Linked DNA regions of Homo sapiens. The protein of the gene in region 1 interacts with the protein of each later gene in a pairwise test. Each region holds a gene or a part of one and is shown on either strand. Other genes may lie near its edges. The genes, in order: MORN3, NFU1, HINFP and RSPH1.

The links.
Region 2: the proteins of MORN3 (region 1) and NFU1 interact in binary tests that used the Homo sapiens proteins (3 or more experiments, as listed by UniProt).
Region 3: the proteins of MORN3 (region 1) and HINFP interact in binary tests that used the Homo sapiens proteins (3 or more experiments, as listed by UniProt).
Region 4: the proteins of MORN3 (region 1) and RSPH1 interact in binary tests that used the Homo sapiens proteins (3 or more experiments, as listed by UniProt).

What each region holds. Positions count from the first base shown.
Region 1 is NC_000012.12:121,648,242-121,652,654, reverse strand, and holds the end of MORN3 (MORN repeat-containing protein 3), read left to right. Parts: intron 1-1,010; 3' UTR 1,011-3,913; downstream 3,914-4,413. UniProt on the Homo sapiens protein: Assembles a suppression complex (suppresome) by tethering SIRT1 and MDM2 to regulate composite modifications of p53/TP53.
Region 2 is NC_000002.12:69,395,625-69,399,492, reverse strand, and holds the end of NFU1 (NFU1 iron-sulfur cluster scaffold homolog, mitochondrial), read left to right. Parts: intron 1-3,202; coding exon 3,203-3,247; 3' UTR 3,248-3,367; downstream 3,368-3,868. UniProt on the Homo sapiens protein: Iron-sulfur cluster scaffold protein which can assemble [4Fe-4S] clusters and deliver them to target proteins.
Region 3 is NC_000011.10:119,124,529-119,131,586, forward strand, and holds part of HINFP (histone H4 transcription factor), read left to right. Parts: intron 1-751; exon of another isoform or gene 752-1,239; coding exon of another isoform or gene 1,240-1,271; intron 1,272-2,406; coding exon of another isoform or gene 2,407-2,416; coding exon 2,417-2,597; intron 2,598-3,822; exon of another isoform or gene 3,823-3,920; intron 3,921-6,127; coding exon of another isoform or gene 6,128-6,196; coding exon 6,197-6,426; intron 6,427-7,006; coding exon 7,007-7,058. UniProt on the Homo sapiens protein: Transcriptional repressor that binds to the consensus sequence 5'-CGGACGTT-3' and to the RB1 promoter. Transcriptional activator that promotes histone H4 gene transcription at the G1/S phase transition in conjunction with NPAT.
Region 4 is NC_000021.9:42,486,167-42,493,224, reverse strand, and holds part of RSPH1 (radial spoke head 1 homolog), read left to right. Parts: intron 1-145; coding exon 146-259; intron 260-361; coding exon 362-467; intron 468-6,763; coding exon 6,764-6,854; intron 6,855-7,058.

The DNA.
Region 1 (4,413 bases):
TCCTGGGGTCTCCAAAGGGCTTGGGGTCGGGGAGTGGGGGAGCAAGACCATCGAGGGCAGGCTTCTTGCCTCCTACAGTCCCAGGTGTCCTTTTTGACGCTTCCTCTTCAAAACCCCTTTTGACCGGCTGTGGTGGCTCTTGCCTTTAATCCCAGCACTTTGGGAGGCCAAGGCAGGCGGATAAGTTGAGGTCAGGAATTTGAGACCAGCCTGGCCAACATGGTGAAACCCCATCTCTACTAAAAATATAAAAGTTAGCCAGGTGTGGTGGCAGGCACCTGTAGTCCCAGCTACTCGAGAGGCTGAGGCAGGGGAATCACTTGAACCCGGGAGGTGAAGGTTGCAGTGAGCTGAGATTGCACCACTGCACTCCAGCCTGGGCGACAGAATGGGACTCTGTCTCAAAAAAAACAAAACTCGCCAGGCACAGTAATCCTATAATCCTGTAATCCCAGCACTTTGGGAGGCCGAGGTGGGTGGATCACGAGGTCAGGAGTTCAAGACTAGCTTGGCCAAGATGGTGAAACCCCATCTGTACTAAAAACACAAAAATTAGCTGGGCGTGGGGGAGGGCACCTGTAATTCCAGCTACTCAGGAGGCTGAGGCAGAGAATTGCTTGAACCTGGGAGGCAGAGGTTGCAGTGAGCTGAGACTGTGCCACTGCACTCCAGTCTGGGTGAGACTGTGTCTCAAAAAACAAACAAACAAACAAATAAACAAACAAACAAACCATTTCACTGAAGACCAGTGCATTCCAGTCCTGCCTGAAACCTTCTATTTGCACCCTGGGCCACACAACTGAGCTGGGCACGGGGTTGAAAGGAGGTGGTCTCCTGGCTTCTGAACACCCTTGAGTAAGGCAGTTGGCCTTCAGCCTCCATTTACACATCTGTCCAGTGGGGTCTTGTCCAGTCCAAGTCCTCCTGGGCATGATGTGAGGGTTTGAGGAGAGGACATTGGTAACAGCGTCTTTCAAATGCCAGCTCCACCATCCCTCTCTCCCCTGCAGAGAACACAAACGCTTCAGGAGAAATTCAAGCCTGTGTCACCCGATCGCTCAGACCAGTGCGGCTCTGGCTGGAGGAGTCAGCAGCAGCTCCAGGCATGACCCCGGCACCCTCATAGGGCCCCTCACTACCCCCAGCACTGGGTCATTTCTTGCCAATAGGAAGGCTGGTGCTTCTCTCCCAGGCTGTCCTCGGGACCCTCTTCATTCTCTGATCTCATCCTGGAATGCATGAGAATAAAGAATAACCAAGTGGTATAAGCCTGGGCCTATGGGATAAGGATGGGGCACTCGAGGGGGCTCAGCAGGGCTTTCAGGTTTAGAAGAGGGAAGACCTGCCTTGGCTGGGCTGCCTGGGTTTAGCTTGGGGGAGTAAGGGCAGGTCTTAGGCCGGGTGCAGTGGCTCATTCCTGTAATCCCAGAACTTGGGAGGCCAAGGTAAGAGGACTGCCTGAGGCCAGGAGTTCGAGACCAGCTTAGGCAACATAGCAAGACCCTGACTCTACAAAAAAAAATTTTAAAATATAAAAGAAAGGAAAAGAAAAAGAGAAAGAAATGGCAGGTCCCCTGTGAGATAACCCAGATGACCCAGAGAGAAGGCCTGTATCCTGCCACACTGGCTGCCAAGATTGGAGATCATAAAATTTCCTGACCACTTCTCAGCCTAACACAGGGCTCTCAACCTTGAAATCCCATGGAAACTTTGCAAAGCTGTGGAAGCCCAGGTCCCATGCCCAGAGATTCACAGGTTCACATCTAATTCATCTGGGGTGAGGCCTGAGCTTTCAGAAAATTCCCCAGGTGATTTTTTTTTTTTAAGACGTAGTCTCCCTCTATTGCCCAGGCTGGAATGCAGTGGCGCGATCTCAGCTCACTGCAACCTCTGCCTCCCATGTTCAAGCGATTCTCCTACCTCAGCCTCCTGAGTAGCTGGGATTACAGGCGCATGCCACTGAGCCCAGCTAATTTTTGTATTTTTAGTAGAGATGGGGTATCACCATGTTGGTCAGGCTGGTCTTGAACTCCTGACCTCGTGATCTGCCCCGCTCAGTCTCCTAAAGTGCTGGGATTACAGGTGTGAGCCATCGAGCCTGGCCTTTTTTTTTTTTTTTTTTTTTTTTTTGAGACAGAGTCTTGCTCTGTCACCCAGGCTGGAGTGCAGTGGCACAATCTCGGCTCACTGCAACCTCGCCTCCCTGGTTCAAGCGATTATCCTGCCTCAGCCTCCCAAGTAGCTGGGATTACAGGCACCTGCCACCAAGGCTAATTTTTTGTATTTTTAGTAGAGACAGGGTTTCACCATGTTGGCCAGGACGGTCTCGATCTCCTGACCTCGTGATCTGCCCGCCTTGGACTCCCAAAGTGCTGGGATTACAGGTGTGAGCCACTGCTCCCAGCCAAGATCAGATGTTCTTGCATAATGGGCAGGTGAGCTCTGGAGTCACAGTGCCTGGGCGTGAATCTCGGAGCTGTGTGTTCTCAGGAATGTCACCCAAACTCTGTTCTGTTGGTCTCCTCACTTGCAATATGGGGCATTAACAGTACTTACCACCTGGGGTTACTGTGGTTAGTTACTGTGAGGATGAGATAAGGCGGTGGTTTTAAACTGTGGGTAGGATTTTGTCCTCCCTCAGCCCCACTCTTTCTTGGGGACATTTGGCAATGTATGACATTTTTGATGTCACAACAGGCAGGAAGAAGGCTACTGGCATTGAGTGAGTAGAGACCAGGGATGCGGTTAAGCATAGTGCAATATCACCATGCTACAAAAAAAAAAAAAAAAAAGAATTCAGCACCTGTAATCCCAACTACTTGGGAGGCTGAGGCAGGAGAATTGCTTGAACCTGGGTGGCAGAGGTTGCAGTGAGCCGAGATTGCGCCATTGCACTCCAGCCTGGGCGACAGAGCGAGACACCATCTCCAAAAAAAAAAAAAAAAAAAATGTTGAGAAACCCTGAAATACCACGATTCTAGCTAAGACCTCAGCAAGAGGCACATAGCACATAGTAAAGCCTCAATAAACACCACTGACCTTACTGAGGTTCTCTCTGCCCCCTAAGTCATAAGTAGGGTGGCCTCACCAAGGGTGTGGTTCTCAGTCTGTACCTCTGGCACTGGGAAGCCCCGCCTGGCCACCCTAGGATGCAGAATTAATCATAACTTCCAGATATGGAGCACTCACTCTATTCCAGGCCGTGTGCTGACAGCTTCGCAGCAAGCATTCTCTCCTGGCACTCCCCGACAACAGTGAGGTGTCTTGCTATTACTGCCATTTTAGAGGAGGAAACAGGTTCAGGGAGGATCACAAGTCATCAAGCTAGTACTGTGCTTAAACTTAGGTCTAGCTGTTCTTAATGTGCAGAAGAGTGTAAAGGGTTACCATTTTTAAAGAAAAAGTGGGGGCAGGGCATGGTGGCTCATGCCTGTAATCCTAGCACTTTGAGAGGCCGAGGCAGGCGGATCAAGAGGTCAGGAGTTCGAGACCAGCCTGACCAACATGGTGAAACCCTGTCTCTACTAAAAATACAAAAATTAGCTGGGTGTGGTGGAGTGCATCTATAATCCCAGCTACTCAGGAGGCTGAGGCAGGAGAATCACTTGAACCCAGGAGGCGGAGGTAGTGGTGAGCCAAGATCACGCCGAGCCGAGATCGTGCCGCTGCTCTCCAGCCTGGGCAACAGAGCGAGACTCCATCTCAAAAAAAAAAAAAATGTTGGAAGAGGGTGTGCTTGTTTATGTACAAAATGTCGCTAGATTTAAACACAATAAACTGGCAAAGATGGTTGTCTCTGGGGAGAATTGGGGACTTGGGAACAGGAGCTGAAGAACAACTTTTCAGTGTTGTGTTTGGAACCATGTGAATGTATTATGTATTCAAAATGTAAATAAAAATGAAGTTAAAGAGACTGTGCTCCTAACTAGGAGTGTTTGTCTAAGTTGCCTGGGTGTGAGAGCACCTGGGGTGCTTGTTAGAAATAGATTCCAAAGACACACCCAGACCTACTTAAATCAGAATCCTCCAAGGGCTTCGAAACCTGCATTTGACAAGCCTGGCTGATGAGTCGAGTCCCGGCCAGTTTAGGAACAAGAACCCAAGACAACAGGATCCTAGCCCAGAAATAATTCCAGCTGGATCTTGCATCCCTACAGAAGTAGGGAGGTGGCTGTCCTAGGGGAATACGTAAAAGATGTCCAGGACGGCCGGGTGCGGTAGCTCACGCCTGTAATCCCAGCACTTTGGGAGGCTGAGGCAGGTGGATCACCTGAGGTCAGGAGTTGGAAACCAGCCTGGCCAGTGTGGTGAAAGCCCATCTCTGCTAAAAATACAAAAATTAGCCGGGCGTGGTGGCTCATGCCTGTAGTCCCAGCTACTCGGGAGGCCGAGGCAGGAGAATCCCTTGAACCC
Region 2 (3,868 bases), on another chromosome or scaffold:
CAAGCAAGAAGCCCATTAAGAAATCATAGTTTGTTGTTATACTGAGTAGAATTCTAGAGCTTTACGTGTAGCACAATATCAACATTTTTTTTTTTGCCAACATACCTAAGGAGTATAACACAGCACCTTGTCATCAGTAATAATGAGTCTCACTGCAGTGATTCTCAACCAAAAAGCATGGCCTTATGGAGAGAGATTATCAAGGAGTGAAGGGATGTGTGGAAATTAGAAATTTCCAACCCACAGAATTTCAGGTAATTCATTCTTTTTTTTTTTTTTTTTGGAGACAGAATCTTGTTCTGTTGCCCAGGCTGGAGTGCAGTGACACGCTATCTCGGCTCACTGCAACCTCCACCTCCCAGGTTGAAGCAGTTCCCATCCCTCAGCCTCATGAGTAGCTGGGATTACAGGCACATGCCACCATTTTTTGTATTTTGTATTTTAGTAGAGACGGGGTTTCATCATGTTGCCCAGGCTGATTTCAAACTCCTGAGCTCAGGCAATTTGCCCGCCTCGGCCTCCCAGAGTGCTAGGATTACAGGCATGAGCCACCGTGCCTGACCACCTCAGGTAATTCTGTGCCCTTAAGGGCTCCATTGGGAATCACTCATCCTTGGGTAGTATTAAAATTCATCTGTTCCACAGTGAGCAGGTCTATATAGACCTATCCCCAAAGTCTTAGGGAGCTGAGAGGCTGAAGACAGAGGCTGGCAAATCCAGTTGGTCAGAAAGAAACATTTAATAGGGACTGAGGAACAGAAGCCATTTATCGGGCAGCTGCAAGATGATGGATTCCTGCATTGTTACCCGCTAGACTCAGGGCTTATATACCAGGAGGAATGGGTATACATGCTTCAGAAGATATGTGTAGGACAATTGAAGTCAGCCCCTCTGGAAAAGGCAAGAATGCTATTTGCCTAATAGCCTATAATTTGCTTAAGGGCAAGATTTATGCTAAGTATGTGTTTGTTTAGGATAACATCAAGATTATTTTGACCTAAAGGCAGAATTAAGTAGAAAACTTAGAGGCATTCCTAGAACTGAGGGTAGTCAATGTGGCAGATTAGCATCCAAGATGGAGTTGCTTTAGCCTCCACACCATCGTTTTGGTCCAGTACATGACATCTTCTCTTTGAAGTTTTTATCCATCCCCCACTTGGAATTAAGTTCTTCTTTGACAGGTCCAAAGCTTCTGTTTTTGCTTTATGTTTATGTAGCTTTCTGTATCTGTTTTAGCTTTATGTTTACGTGGAAGCTCCCTAAGAGACTTGAAATCATATCCAAGTCTTTGTGTTCCTCTGCAACAACTAGCTGTGTGCCTTACAAATGTCCTATACATGCTTTGTATTAAGTATTTGGGAATATTATTCCAAATTAAGGAATAATTCTGCCTAAAATATGAGTTGGTTGACAAAATTTTTTGGATTGGGTATTGTTGAAATTGGATGTAAAATATTAATTTCTTGGGAATAAATACCAATTTTTACTCAACCAAAAAGACAGCCTATGAAAGAATTCTTTTTCTATTGATTGTCTCAGATCAGAGCCAGAATCTGGATTTTTTTTTTTTTTTTTTTTGAGACGTAGTTTCACTCTTGTTGCCCAGGCTGGAGTACAATGGCTTGATCTTGGCTCACTGCAGCCTCCACCTCCCGAGTTCAAATGATTCTCCTGCCTTAGCTTCCCAGGTAGCTGGGATTACAGGCGCGCGCCACCACGCCTGGCTAATTTTTATATTTTTAGTAGAGATGGGGGTTTCGCCATGTTGACCGGGCTGGTCTTGAACTCTTGACCTCAGGTGATCCACCTGCCTCAGCCTCCCAAAGTGCTGGGATTACAGGCATGAGCCACTGTGCCTGGCCTAGATTTTTTTTAAAAAAAAAAACCTTACTTTGTTCCATTATCATCTATATGCCTTAAAAAATTATGTTAGTTGATACTTTGGTGGATTGACTGAGGAACATTTTTATTCAATTGTCCAGGGTAGGGTGATGAATTGGCCTTCAGATTAGAAACTTGAATTGGCATCTAATTGTAGTAGGTGTGGTGAGGAGAAAAAAACATTCTTAGGTTTATGTAACTTTTTCCTTCTCCAATGGAGTTAGTCTGTTATCTTAGTAATACATTAACTCATGGAAAGATAATAGCTGTTGTAACATTTTCCTGAGGCTTAAAATGATCTTTTATCTCAGTAAGACTAAAATAATTAGTTCCTAATATGGTGGGGTTTTTTTGTTTTGTTTTGTTTTTCACTTTCCTTGGGGATTCATTTTAATAAAAATAAATGTTTTTAAAATAACAATTTGGTATAGCTTCACAGAATATATTTAAGTAAATAAGATGGTTTTGAAAAAAAGAAAAAGTCATTTACATTAGTCTTATGGCTAGAGAATACCAGTTAAATTGTTTTTTTTTTTTTGAGACGGAGTCTTGCTCTATCACCAAGCTGGAGTGCTCTATCACCAGGCACTAGGCTCACTGCAACCTCCACCTCCCCAGTTCATGCCATTCTCCTGCCTTAGTCTCCCGGGTACCTGGGACTACAGGCGCCCACCACCACGACCGGCTAATTTTTTGTATTTTTAGTAGAGACGGGGTTTCACTGTGTTAGCCAGGATGGTCTTGATCTTCTGCCCTCATGATCTGCCTGCCTCAGCCTCCCAAAGTGCTGGGATTACAGGCGTGAGCCACCGCGCCTGGCCCCAGTTAATTATTTATAGTCTTTTCTGCCCAGCTGAGACTCTGCTATGGGTAGCCTCTTTGAGACAAGGAGAAGTGATCAATGCTTTAATTAATTTCCAAATATTTAATTTGCTTTTATTTTATTTTATTTTTTTTTTGAGACAGAGTCTCGCTGTGTTGCCCACGCTGGAGTGCAGTGGCGCGATCTCGGCTCACTGCAAGCTCTGCTTCCCAGGTTCACGCCATCCTCCTGCCTCAGCCTCCCGAGTAGCTGGGACTACAGGCGCCCGCCTGGCTAATTTTTTGTATTTTCAGTAGAGATGGGGTTGCTTTTATGTTTTTAGGATACCGGGTTATGATTCAAACCTTGTTCTTTGGGGCTGTTGATAGATTTATTCTTACTGGCTTGTCATGCCTCATTATAGAGTGTATCAGGTAAAGAAGTAATATTAAAATCAGGAAAACAGCAAAATCTAATCATTTTCTTAATTCTTAAATTGTCTTTGTTTTTTGGTTTTAGGTTATGGATGATGAATCAGATGAAAAAGAAGCAAACTCACCTTAAAATAATCTGGATTTTCTTTGGGCATAACAGTCAGACTTGTTGATAATATATATCAAGTTTTTATTATTAATATGCTGAGGAACTTGAAGATTAATAAAATATGCTCTTCAGAGAATGATATATAAATATTGCATGTTTGCTTTACCTCATATGAGTTATTTATAACCTCTTGAATCATCTTCTGTACACGTGGATTTTATCCAAGGATATTTTTATTTTTGTCCCTCATTTCCCATGGCTCTTTCTTTGCATATGTGTGAAGGAGTTTAAAATACATTTCCCCCCATCTAATTTATTTACTTTTTTCCATACAGGAAGAAACAGAATGCTTTTTAGAATATTCTAAAATAGCTTTTTGTGAAATATCTAAAACTATTTTTACTGAAGTTTTTAGCTTAAGAAACAGCTAAACAAGTCTGTTTTAAAAATGGTATCTGGCTACTAGCCCCCAATTAAGTAGCAAAGAACTGCTTAAGACCAAAAAAAAGAAATCAAAAATGTCCGGGTATGGTGGCTAACGCCTATAATCCCAGCACTTTGGGAGGCCGAGGTGGGCAGATCACGAGGTCAGGAGTTTGAGACCAGCCTGAACAACATGGTGAAACCCCGTCTCCACTAAAA
Region 3 (7,058 bases), on another chromosome or scaffold:
TTTAATTGTTACTCAAAGTATGCTTCTGGAACTGCTTGCATCACAACTGGGGTGCTGAGTTAAAAGGGCAGATTTCTAGGCTTAACTCCTGCCTTCCTGAATCCGAACTTCTCACGCAGGCGCTGGATAACTACATTCGTGTGCAGATCTAAAATTGAGAGCTACCTGGGCATGGTGGCTCACATCTATAATCCCAGCACTCTGGGAGGCTGAGGCGGGTGGATCACCTGAGGACAGGAGTTCGAGACCAGCCTGGCCATCATGGTGAAACTCTGTCTCTAGCAAAAATACAAAAATTAGCCAGGCGTGGTGACACACCTGTAATCCCAGCTACTCAGGAGGCTGAGGCAGGAGAATCTCTTGAACCCGGCAGGTGGAGGTTGCAGTGAGCTGAGATTGCGCCACTGCATTCCAGCCTGGGTAACAGCGAGACTCTGTCTCAAAAAATAAAAATAAAATGAAATAAAATTGAGAACCTTTAGTTTTTTGTTTGTGTGTGTGTGTGTGTTTTTTTTTTTTTTTTTTTTTGAGACAGAGTCTTACTCTGTTGCCCAGGCTGGAGTACAGTGGCACGATCTCGGCTCATTGCAGCTTCTGCCTTCCAAGTTCAAGCGATTCTCCTGCCTCAGCCTCCCGAGTAGCTGGGATTACAGGCTTGTGCCACCACGCCTGGCTAATTTTTGTATTTTTAGTAGAGACAGGGTTTCACCATGTTGGCCAGGCTGGTCTTGAACTCCTGACTTCAGATGATCCACCTGTCTTGGCCTCCCAGAGTGCTGGGATTAGAGGTGTGCACCAGTGCGCACAGCCGAGAACCTTCAGTTTCATGTTTATCTTTCTTCAATAAATATTTATTACAGACTGGGTGCAGTGGCTCATGCCTGTAACTCCAACACTTTGGGAGTCTGAGGCAGATGGGTTGCTTGAGTCCAAGAATTCGAGACCAGCCTGGGCAACATGGCAAAACCCTGTCACTACAAAAACAAAACAAAACAAAAATTAGACAGATGTGGTGGCGCATGCCTGTGGTCCCAGTTACTTGGGAGGCTGAGGTAGGAGGATCTCCTGAGCCTGGGGAGGTCGAAGCTTCAGTGAGCTGTGATTGTGCCACTGTACTCCAGCCTGGGTGACAGGGTGAGACTCTGTCTCAAGAAAAAAAATATTTATTACATGCCTAAGCATGCCTAGCAGTGTATAGACACCCAAGGTGCAGTATAAACTACACAGATACGGCTTTTTATGTTCAAATGGAATCTACATTTTAACAGAAGGTATTAGCAGAGTGGTGGAGTAAACCGTTGGATAGGTTAGGTAAAGGCAGATTGTATGGCACTGTGAAAGTCTGGCAGGGGACTTATGATTCAATAAGAAATAAGGAGCTTCTAGGCTCATCTGTAGGCTCTATGGAGTAGAACCGTATATGGACTAGAGTCAGCCCAACATGACCCTACCATTACCACTAGTGTGTGGCCGTGAGCAAGTCAGTTGACCTCTGGAACTTCAGGTGTTTATCTATAAATGAGGTTAAAAATAGCACCTACCAGCTGGGCGTGGTGGCTCACACCTATGATCCCAGCACTTTGGGAAGCCAAGGTGGGTGGATCACCTGAGGGCAGGAGTTTGAGACCAGCCTGACCAACATGGGGAAGAAACCCTGTCTCTACGAAAAATATAAAAATTAGCCAGGCGTGGTGGCGGGCGCCTGTAATCCCAGCTACTCAAGAGGCTGAGGCAGGAGAATCGCTTGAACCCGGGAGGCGGAGGTTGCAGTGAGCCAAAATCGAGCCATTGCACTCCAGCCTGGGAGATGAGCGAAACTCAATCTCAAAAAAAAAAAAAAAAAAAGCACCTACGGCAAAGGGTGGTGTTGGTAATTAAATGACATAATGCAAATAAAATGCTTACTGTGGTGCTTGACATATAGTAAGTGTGAAATTAAAAACAAAAAGATTTATTATCTTCATTTTGCAGATGAGAGTATTCAGAAGTTAAGTTCTTGACAAAGGTCATACAGCTAGTAGATGGTAGACAGTGGAGCCAGGATTTGAACCCTGATCCTTCTCAAAAGCCATCTGTTTGAACCTGAGCATTGTTCTGCCTCACAGAGGAATAATTCCTTCTTGGTGGGTTGCTCTGAAGCTTCATGAGAAAATGTCTGTTAAAGCGTTTAGCTCAGTGCCTGGCACACACTCAATAGTGTTAGTTTTTGTTTTCCCTTTCCACAAACACCAGACATCTTCCAGGGATTTAAGGAATTACTCCATCCTTACTGTAAAAGGGCAGGGTTTCTCATGGGTCACTGGAACAACACGTGCTGATTCTAGGCAGGCTGCCTGCCCAGCTTTTTGCCCTCAGCAGCACCTGGGTGGAATTCTTGCAGCTGTGGATTTCTTCCTCTTCCTCTAGGGTGAAGGCCATGCCGCCTCCTGGGAAAGTTCCCCGAAAGGAGAATCTGTGGCTACAGTGTGAGTGGGGGTCCTGCTCCTTTGTGTGCTCAACCATGGAAAAGTTCTTTGAGCATGTCACTCAGCACCTGCAGCAGCACCTGCATGGCTCTGGGGAGGAGGAGGAAGAGGAAGAGGAGGATGACCCACTTGGTAAGAGAGCAGGACACAGGAAGGGGAGGAGCTCAAGGAAAGGTGGAAAATCTGACTTTCTTTTCCTTAGAGGGAGAAGGCGGCCTAAGAGAATGGTGGTTTATTTTCCTAATTGTGTTTTTGTTGTATATAAAAACATTGTAAACTCATTTATAGAAAACTCAGTCAACAAGGATATAAGGAATAAATCTGCCATCCTGCCATCAAGAAGTAATTGCTGACAGTACTTTAGTGAACATTGTTTTTGACATCTCTCTGCCTGTGTTTACATATATTTAAATACAGATGAATGTGCTTTTTTTTAATCATTCTGTACAAGTTGTTGGCAACCTGTGTTTTGTTGTTGTGTTTTTTTTTTTTTTTTTTTTACTCTTCTAGTATTCCCAATTTTTTTTTTCTTTTACTGCAACCAGTCAGAAATACATCTTACTTTTTAGAGACAGGGCTTCATCTTGTCACCCAGGTTGGAGTCCAGTGTCATGATCATAGCTCACTGCAGCCTTCAACACTCAAGGGATCCTCCTGCCTCAACCTCCCGAGTAGTTAGGACTGCAGGCATGTACCACCACCACACGCCAATTTTTAAAAAAATTTTTTTTAGAGACAGGATCTTGCTTATGTTGCCCACTGATCTCAAACTCCTGGCCTCGAGCAATCCTCCTACCTTAGCCTCCTAAGTAGCTGGGACTATTGGCTTGTGCCACCAAGTCCAACCCCACTCCCACCTTCCAATTTTTTTTTTTTTTTTTGAGACGGAGTCTTGCTCTGTTGCCAGGTTGGAGTGCAATGGTTCGATCTCGGCTCACTGCAGCCTTTGCCTCCCAGGTTCAAGCAATTCTCCTGCCTCAGCCTCTTGTAGCTGGGACTACAGGCGCGCGCCACCACGCCCAACTAATTTTTGTACTTTTAGTAGAGATGGGGTTTCACCATGTTGGCCAGGATGGTCTCAATCTCTTGATCTCATGATCCGCCCACCTCGGCCTCCCAAAGTGCTGGGATTACAGGCGTGAGCCACCGCACCTGGCCCCATCTCTCACTTTTTAACCTTTGTCTGACTTATGTTTTAGGTATGCCTTTTATCAATAGCAAATAACTGGGATTTTAATAAAATCCAATCTGAAAACAATAACAATAGTGAACTGTATTCTATAGTACCTACTGTGTGTTAAGTATTGCTGGGTACTTTATTTTTTTTTTGAGATGGAGTCTCATTCTTGTTGCCCAGGCTGTAGTGCAGTGGTGCAATCTCGGCTCACTGCAACCTCTGCCTCCTCGGTTCAAGCGATTCTTCTGCCTCAGCCTCCCGAGTAGCTGGGATTACAGGTGCGTGCCACTACGCCCGTCTAATTTTTTTTTGTATTTTTAGTAGAGACAGGCTTTCACCATGTTAGCCAGGATGCCCCTGTTGGCCAGCCTGGTCTTGAACTCCTGACCTCAGGTGATCCGCCCGCCTCAGCCTCCCAAAGTGCTGGGATTATAGACGTGAGCCACCATGCCCGGCCAGTACTTTTTTAAACCTACATTAAAGCACTATTTCCCAAAGAGCCTATGAGATAGGCACTATTATTATTATTATTTATTATTATTATTTTTAGATGGAGTCTTGCTCTGTCGCCAGGCTGGAGTGTGGTGGTGCGATCTCAGCTCACTGCAACCTCCACCTCCCAGGTTCAAGCAATTCTACTGCCTCAGCCTCCCGAGTAGCTGGGATTACAGGCACATGCCACTATGCCCAGCTAATTTTTTTTTGTATTTTTAGTAGAGACGGGGTTTCACTGTGTTAGCCAGGATGGGATAGGCACTATTATTATACCCATTTTACAAATAAGGAAACGGAGGCACAGAGGAATAAAATAACTTGCCCAAAGTCACGGTACTAATAAGTGTGGCAGGATTTAAAAGAAAAAGGAAAAAAAAAACTTTTTTTCAGAGTAAGATGGAGTCTTACTCTGTTGCTCAGGCTAGAGTGCAATGGCATGATCTCGGCTAATTGCAACCTCCGCCTCCCGGGTTCAAGTGATTCTCCTGCTTCAGCCTCCCAAGTAGCTGAGATTACAGGTGCCCGCCACCACGCCCGGGTAATTTTTGTATTTTTAGTAGAGACAGGATTTCACCATATTGGCCAGGCTGGTCCCAAACTCCTGACCTTGTGATCTGCCTGCCTCGGCCTCCCAAAGTGTTGGGATTACAGGCGTGAGCCACTGCGCCCGACCAAAGCCACTTTTTTTTTAGAGACAGAGTCTTGCTATGTTACCAGGTTGATCTTAAACTCTTGGCCTCAAGTGATCCTCCTGCCTCAGCATGCTGAGCAGCTGGGACTATAAGCATAAGCCACTGCATCTGGCAGGAATACATTTTTCTTTTCTTTTTTTTTTTTTTTGTGGGAGTGCAGTGGCTCGATCTCCGCTCACTGCAAGGTCCGCCTCCCGGGTTCATGCCACTCTCCTGCCTCAGCCTCCCAAATAGCTGGGACTACAGGCGCCCACCACCAAGCCCAGCTAATTTTTTTTTGTATTTTTTAGTAGAGACGGGGTTTGACTGTGTTAGCCAGGATGGTCTCGATCTCCTGACCTCGTGATCTGTCTGCCTCGGCCTCCCAAAGTGCTGGGATTACAGGCGTGAGCCACCGCACCCGGCCCAAAATGTGGTTGATAGTTCACTGAACTGATTTCCTAACCCACTAGTGGGTCACAACACAGTCTGAAAAACTCTATTCTACAGGAAATATGGAGGCAGCTCTCCTTCTCCCACCCCAAATTCTGTTTTAAGTCTGATGACTATGAACCATAATTGATAGTTTCAAAATTCAAGTCATATTTATACAAAGGCAAAATTGGGGAATGATTATATTTTCTAAAGTATCTGTGTTTCAAAACAAGTTAACTTATATAAAGCGCTGAAAATACAGTGCTTAGGGATGCTAGAGAGATAGGAAATGGATTGGAAGAGTTGATGGGGCCTTCTTGGAGAAGGCAGATCTTGAGCAAAACATGAGGGGAAGGAGGAGTGGTGGTTTTACAAGGAGAAGTGGGAGGTGTCAGATCGAGAGGCAGCATCTTCATCAGGAACTGCAGAAACTCAAGTCAGAGGACTTGCGTGCCGGCCATTTCTGCTGTCTGTTTCTGGCATAGGCCTTGCACACACTCTCACCTCTGCCTAGACCACACTTCTTCACCTATTTACAGATACTCATCCATCGTACTTCAGAGTTCAACATGGGGACGTTTCTCAGAACACCATGTCAAATGACCTCTGTTTAATGCTTTTATAGCACCATGTATATCCCCGCTTTGTAACACTCATCACTGGTTGCAGTTTTATATTTATAGATCTGATTATTTGATGAATATGCTTTCTCCCTGACTGAAAGCTATGTGAGGGCAAGGAGTGGGACACTTTTTACTTGTTATAGTCCCTCTAACTGGCACACAATTTATGGTCATTAAATACTGGTATTTGCTAAATGAACCCTGGTAATTTGGTTAGAGTCCAGCCTCCTCACGAGTCCAGCCTCCTCACTCTCTGTTTAGTGCTGCAGGTGGAAGGTGACCTGAGCCTTGGAAAGTGTCAGACTCTTCCTTTTAAACCCCTTTCTACAGAGGAAGAATTCTCCTGCTTGTGGCAGGAATGTGGCTTTTGTTCTCTGGACAGTTCTGCTGACCTCATCCGCCATGTCTACTTCCACTGCTACCACACCAAGCTGAAACAGTGGGGGCTGCAGGCCTTGCAAAGCCAGGCTGACCTTGGCCCCTGCATCCTGGACTTCCAGAGCCGGAACGTCATCCCTGATATCCCTGACCACTTCCTGTGTCTGTGGGAGCACTGTGAGGTCAGCAGGCAGTGCCAGTAATTGGGGTGGAAGGAAGCTGGGGGTCTTAACTCTGATGCCTTGTCCCTTTCAGGGATGCCTTATATTTCCAAGATTCCTGCTAGTATCTCTCTTCCATTTCTTTTGCTCTTTTAAAATTTGTTTATTTTTTACACACAGGCTCTTGATCTGAAGCCCAGGCTAGAGTGCAGTGGTACAATCATAGCTCACTGTAACCTTGAACTCCTGGGCTCAAGCAATCCTCCCACCTCAGCCTCCCAAGTAGCTAGGACTACAGGCATGTACCACCATGCCCTGCTAACTTCTAAATTTTTTGTAGAGACAAGGTCTGGGTGTGTTGCCCAGGCCGGTCTCGAACTCTTGGCCTCAAGTGATTCTCCTGCCTCAGCCTCTCAAAGTGCTGGGATTACAGGGTTTAGCAACCGCACCCGGCCACTCCTCCATTTCTGTGCAGTGCCTTTCCTCAAAATTTCCCATCCCCATCAAGTTAATTTGGGAGAGAGCCAAGAATTCTTCGGGCACATAGGGGTGAGTCCCTCTACCCACCCTCAGTCCTCACCCCAAGTTGCCCCTGGCACAGAATTCCTTCGACAATCCTGAGTGGTTTTATCGGCATGTGGAAGCACACAGTC
Region 4 (7,058 bases), on another chromosome or scaffold:
AGGTGGGAAAGGTGGGACAATTGAGTATAGTGCCGGGGGTTTAGCATAGTGGGATGACTCAAGGGTATGATATTTACAAAATGCTTAGCACCTGGTTAGCGCTTAATGAATGGTAGCTGTAATTGTGTCAATTTTCATTACCCAGGAATATGAGGGGGGTCGGAATGAGGCAGGCGAAAGGCACGGACGTGGGAGGGCACGGCTACCCAACGGGGACACCTACGAAGGGAGCTACGAATTCGGTAAAAGACATGGCCAGGTCAGAACCGTTGACTTGACTGGATGGTTTTCTCTATTTAATACTCTGTTAGCAAATGCTACATTCAGCAATGATATGAATGATATAATCAATGTGTTTCAGGGGATCTACAAATTTAAAAATGGTGCTCGATATATCGGAGAATATGTTAGAAATAAAAAGCACGGTCAAGGCACTTTTATATATCCAGATGGATCCAGATATGAAGGTAAAATGTTATCACTAAGCAGATTTTCGTGTTACAGAAGTTTTTCTTTCTTTATGACTGAACTTGTCTGTGAATACTGACATGTATGAGAAAGCTTAAAGTTCTCCAGTTACTCATTCAACGAACACAGATCGTGTTACTATATTCACAGTGTTGATGCAGAAATAGGAAAGCCTTGTAATTAATTAACTCACTAATGAATCTGTAGTGGGAAATCTGTCCCTGTGGCCAGCATGTCCATGTCCTGGGAGCAGACAAAAGGGAGGCTCCTGAGTGGACGCAGGCCTCGCAGCTGGTGGACCCACGGCTTCAGCTGCTCTGCGGCATTCATCTTCCTGAACCTGTCTTTGCATTTTCCATTTCTGACCAACCCCGCCATCTGACGGATGTGTTATTTCTTCAGATCGAGTGTTTCCTTACATCAGGGCTTCCTGTCTGGGAGTCTTCCTGCCTTGTTAAACTGACTTTTCCTACCTGTGCCATAAGTCCTTACAGGCCAATGTTATGTTTGAGGAGGATTCTTTTTCCTTTATTTCCAAGAACCTCCCTGCCGCCCCTTGTGCCGTTGTCACCTGGTGTGACCACATTAGTGATATCCCAAACCTGGGCAGGGGGACCGGCAGGGAGCGTGTTGTGAGTCTTCAGAAAGTGTATATAAAATTCTGTGTTCTGGGCTTTTTGTTTTTTCCCTAGGAAGAAAGAAATTGTCTAGTTTTCTTCAGATTTCCAAAAAGATCTGTGACCCTAACCTTGGACTCTGGTGACAATAGGTGTGAGCTTGCATAGGTGACTTCACATCTCCTTGCCTCAGTTTCTCATCTGTAGCATGAAGATTCAATGGATAAACACAGGGAGACACCTGCAACCTTGCCTGATCCATAGTGAGCACTCAGTAACTGGGGCTAGGACTGTGATGTACCACTTGTGACAGCATCACTTCTTAGTGAGGAGGACATATTCTTACAAAGTGCGAGCTATAGTTGCTTGCTTTGCTCCTAGATAAAATAAGAACCAGTAGGTGGTTCTTATTTTAATAGATGTCAGTGATGATTCTGTCCAATTCTGAGACCAAGATGGAGGGTTTTAATACCATCCCTGTTAGATAGAAATTGTTTTGTTTTGTTTCATAAATCCCAGAAGGCTTGCTCTATAAGAAGCACCATCTGCTTTTTAAATCAACTTTAAACAATTTAATTTGGGGCTTAATTTAATTCTTTCCAAATCCTTATGCACCTAATCTCATTCTTGTCACTTTTGATTTTAGTGTAGATGTTGATACAATTTGAACAACACACACACACACGAAGATATTTAGGATAAGGGATTTAAGGAATTTTGAATATGAAGGTTAAAAATGGGTAACTGTTTCTCTGACACCAAATGCATGGATTTTCCATGCTATGTACTTCTCCAGTCTTCTGTGAACACCAACTGAGTTTCCAATGATGCAACTCCATTCTGACACCACCCAGAGTTAGCACAGACCCCACAGGTTAAGGGCTCAGTTTCCAAGACTGCCCCACTTCAGATGTCAACCTCAAGTTGTGGATCCGGAGGGTACCCACAGTTCTACCTGACTCGGCTACAAATTGGGGGTTCCTACAACACCCTACTCAGGTTTGATAATGTGCCATAGCGGCTCATAGGACTCAGGAAAGCACTTTACTCATGTTTACTGTAAAGGATATTATAAAGAATATGGATGAACAGCCAGATTCAGAGGTACAGAGGGCAAGGCCTGGAAGGTTCCCAAGCACAGGAGCTTCTGTCCTTGTGGAGGTGGAGTGCACCACCCTCCTGGCACATGATATGTTTATCACCCCAGAAGCTCAACAAATCTTGCTCAAGAGTTTTTACAGAGCTTAATCTCTGGCCCCTTCCTTCTTCTTTACCAAAAGTTGGTGGGTGGGGCTGGAGGTTCTATCCTTCTTATCACTTGGTCTTTCTGGTGTTCAGTCCCATCTTGAGGCCATCCTGGGCCTCATTTGCATAAGTTCAGGTGTGGTCAAAAGAGTCTCATTTTGAATAACAAAAACATTTCTATCAGTCAGGAAATGTCAAGGGTTTTAGGAGCTCTGTGCTGGGAACCATGAATAAAGACCAATATTTCTTATTATGCCACACTAACATATAAAGCTCTTCTGGTAACAGTTGGGATTTTTGATTCTCCAGATGGCTTTGTATCTTAAAGGGTGCAAGATTTAGCCACTACCCAGAGATTTCTTCTCTGACAAAAGCTTAAATAAGTGTCTTACTTCATGAAGGCAGCAATGGAAACTGAGGTCAGAAGTTATAATATTAATTATAACATAGTAAGCCAATACTCTTCCAATCACAAAATCTCAGTTAATGTATGGCTGAGTTATTCATAACAGTGTATCTTGGCTGGCTGCCATCACAATGGGCCAGAATGGTTTTGTGCAGGGCAGTGTGTTCAACGTCAGGACCCTGTGGCATAAAGTCCAGTACCCTACCTGTCTCCCAGATGGTCACACAAGTCCAATTAGGGAGTCCAGGAGCCAGCAGAGGCTATAGTGCTGCAGGAGAGGAGTGGGGAGACGGTCCTGGGTGGCGGGTGACTTGGATACAGGCAGGAAGGCCGAGGTTTTTAGGGGTAGTGGGGGATGAGATGGAGGGGAGGGTGGGTGCCAGATGTGGGGGAGGCCTAGACCCCATGTACTGATGCTGAGGGTTGGGGGTGTAGGGCCAACTGAGGACTCTGAGGTTAAGGGGGAGAAAGAGCATCCCTATTCCCTGCTGGCCTTGTTGCCTGTCAAACAGAACTCATCAAAACAAAGAAGTTTAAGAATGACATTGTGGAGAAAGAAGAATGACATGATAACTTGAACCTGGGTTTTTTGGAAGCCCCCGAATGGCAGGAGCTGGAAAAAATGAGCACTTGACTGTTGGGATGCTTGTGGAGAAGAGAGCATGGTGTTAGACAGACTCCAATTTTCATTTCAGTCTTGCTACCCACCAGCTGTGGGACCTTGGGGAATGCATGCAGTCTCTCTGCTTTTCAGGTTCTGCATCTGTAAAACCATATTTCAGCGATTACACATACCAAATGCTGTGGCAAGTGCACGGAACCCTGCCCAGGGTCTGACACCGAGTGTTTCCCCATAAGTGTGGGCTCCTTCTCTCCTGTGTTTGGCTGACCCAGCAGTTTAGGGAGCCAACTTGGCAAGACCATGGGCCAGCATGGCAAACCAGTGACCAACCAGCATTTGAGGGGGGAGGAGCATCTTGGAGAGCTTCTCATTTTAAATTGTCTTCAATCCCAAGTGCCAGACAAACTGCTCTACCCAAGGAGCACCTGCTCCACACCAGCCAACTGACCCACAACCAGCCAATCAAACAGCCAACCAATCAACCAACCAGCCAACTGACTAGCCAACCAAGCAACCAATCAACCAACCAATTAACCAACCAACTGTCTAACCAACCAACCAATTAGCCAACCAGCCAACCAACCAACCAACCAACCAACCAGCCAACCAGCCAACCAAACAGCTAACCAATCAACAAACCAGTCAACTGACTAGCCAACCAACCAAACAACCAACGAACCAGCCAACCAAACAGCCAACCAATCAACCAACCAGCCAACTGACTAGCCAACCACCCAGCCAACCAGTTAACCAACCAACCAGCCAGCCAACCAACCAACCAACCAATCGGTTAGCCAACTAACCAACCAGCCAACCAGCCAACCAACCAACCAACCAGTTAACCAACAAATCAACCAACCAACCAACCAACCAACCAACTGGGAGTTACTCCTGAGAAGAAATATAGTTGGAAAAAACCTCAGTTGACAAGTTCAAGAATGATCAGAAAGTATAGGATTGGGGTAGAAAGACTTTAAAAAAAAAATTAAGTGCAAATTTAAAGCCACAATAATAAAGTTTACAAATGTCACTCACCTCAAAAAAGGAAACTTGACTTATAGCTGTTAGAGATGTGCCTCAGCAGGTGACTTTTCTCTGAATTACCTTCTCTATTTGTGCAGGGTCCCTGTGGTGGCATTACAAAATGCTGGGCCGAGCCTCTTAACAGGTTTTTTAAGTAGATTGGGACTTTAAAAAATTTTGCTCACCGTCCTCTTGGTGCAAAATTTAGTGTCTTTTGCAACTTAACTGTTCTCTTTTATTTTTGAAATTTTTCTGCAAAATATGTAATATATTTTTCTCACCATGACACCCTGGAGATCCTCTGACATGGCCAAGAGAGGAGGGATGTAATAATTTTGTCATGAAGTTTTGTTGGGAAGAAACCAAATGATGTACCTGTTTCAGCTGAGGTCTCTATGCCCCAGGGCTGTGCTGGAACCCCCTCATAGTAGCTCACAAAAACCCATTCTGTGCATCTCTTCCCAGCTCCATGTGTAGCTTGAAATTGGCCGCGGTGTGAGTATTTACACCACAGAACCTGGCAAATGTTACAAATCCAGGCACATCACTGCCCCTTAAGACCCAGACAAATCCCTCTAGGTATTTGCACATCCTCATGGTTAATTTAGGTTCAGGGACCTGAAGTATTTTTTACTGAATTATCTCAATTTGGGGATCTTCATCTCTCTTGTTCACATTGTTCCTGTCACACATCACATCATGGGACCTAGTCCTCTTCCTTAATTGTTAGCAGTTGCCACCTTCCCTCTCTCCATGAATTTTTGGTAAGCCTGCTCTTTTCTGAATGACTTACCCACTTTTTGAAATTGTGCCATGCAGCTTTTCGTGCTGCCTTCCCTGTCCTCAGCTGCTGCTCAGGTGCCAACCTTCCATCCTCAGGCTGGTGCTCGCGCCCTGGGGACATGCACTGTCCTTTGTACAGCTCTTCGTTCATCTCACAAAGTGCCCAGGACATTGTAGGTGCTGAGTAAATAATGGGATGATTGAGGAAATAAATATGTAGAAGTTCCTTCTGCAGATAAATTTTGGGGTTATTCACATAAACAAATATTACTTGAATAATTAGCATTTTCTTAGCCTATTGGGTATTCTTTATCTTCATGTGGAAGTGGGTCCAGTTTTTGTGTAAGCCAGAAGCTTATGTAAGTTTTGAGAACCTCTTTAAAAAAAAGAAAATATAAAGTTGGTATAAAAGTGAATTTTCATTTGCAATGATAAATCAAAATAAGTTAAAAATTTAAAAATACCACAAACATCACAGAATCTAAGTAGCCTGAGTTTTAATGTCTGACATACTTCTAGAATAGCTTTTCTCTACCTTTGTTAGCTAATACTCTTTGAATGCTTCTCCATATGGCAACCATTTTGTAATGTTTTCTATAGAGAGAATAGAAATATAATTCCTTCTTTTCTCTTTGATCAACAAATTGATCAACATTTGCTTTTTATTATTCATAGTCTCAAAACATATCATTTAGCTTAATGACTTGGTGTAATATGCACGTTTTTAAGAGCAGTCACCTTTGGGAGACCTCTATTAAGTTTCTTTCCTAAGTGAGCTGTAAGATTTGAGGACGTTTTGAGTTTTCTAGTGCAGGGATTCATACTGTGGTTGACAAAAGTAGTTTGCAGTTGTCCACATCATGGAGTGGTATTATGAATTTTATGATATCCTTGCCAATTTCAGTACTGCCTACCAAGCCTATAAGGACTTAGCAGAAGCCGTATGGAGGTGAGGAGGTGAGGGAAGAGTTCAAACAGAGGCATGGCACCAGCGGATGGAGCTGGTGTGCAGCTGGGGTTAGAGTGGCATGTTGGAGTCAGATGATTGGGTGGGAGATAGACTGAAATGCTGCCAGGTGGCTGAGGATAGATGGTCAAGCCCTGGAGTTGTTGCTGGATCTCTAAACATTTGCAAGGTAAATGAAGTGTGGTGTTAGGATCACTGGCAATGGGTCAGACAACCTTGGTTTGTCTCCCTCCTCGTTGCATCTTCGTGGTGCCTCTGACTAACCTGTGAAATGTGCTTGTCAGTACATGCAGGTGGCTGTGGCCCACATCCATACACCTCACTCTGTACCCCGTGAACTCCTGACTCAGCCCTCTCTTAGCCCACTGTCCACCGTGGCTCAGCACCTATGCCATCTGGCACAAAAGGAAGGGGTGGAGGGATGTCAGAGTGGAAACAGATAGCAGCCTTGGTCGGTGCTGTTAAAAATCTCTCTTCTGCAGGATTTCCTGAGCAGAAGGGGCCTGTGTGTGCATGGGCTTCATTTGCTTCACAACACATCTGCCTTTGCCATGGTTAACAATTTGAAGACATGGTACAGGGCATCGATCCCTTCTTCTCACCTGGGCTTGCCTTTGTGTTGTTCCTTTCAGGAGAGTGGGCAAATGACCTGCGGCACGGCCATGGCGTATACTACTACATCAATAATGACACCTACACTGGAGAGTGGTTTGCTCATCAAAGGTTCGGTTTCTATCTTGGGTCTTAACGGGATTTGCTTATGTAATGAGAACATGATGTCTGCAGATTGTTTACACTTACTGAGGAACAGAATCATAACAAAAGCCCAGTTACCAACTCTGCCAGGCAGGTCCAATCTTTCTATGGCTTTGAGGCAAGGATGCCTTTCTGTGCAAGTGTAGACTCAAGTATCTGACATCTGCACCT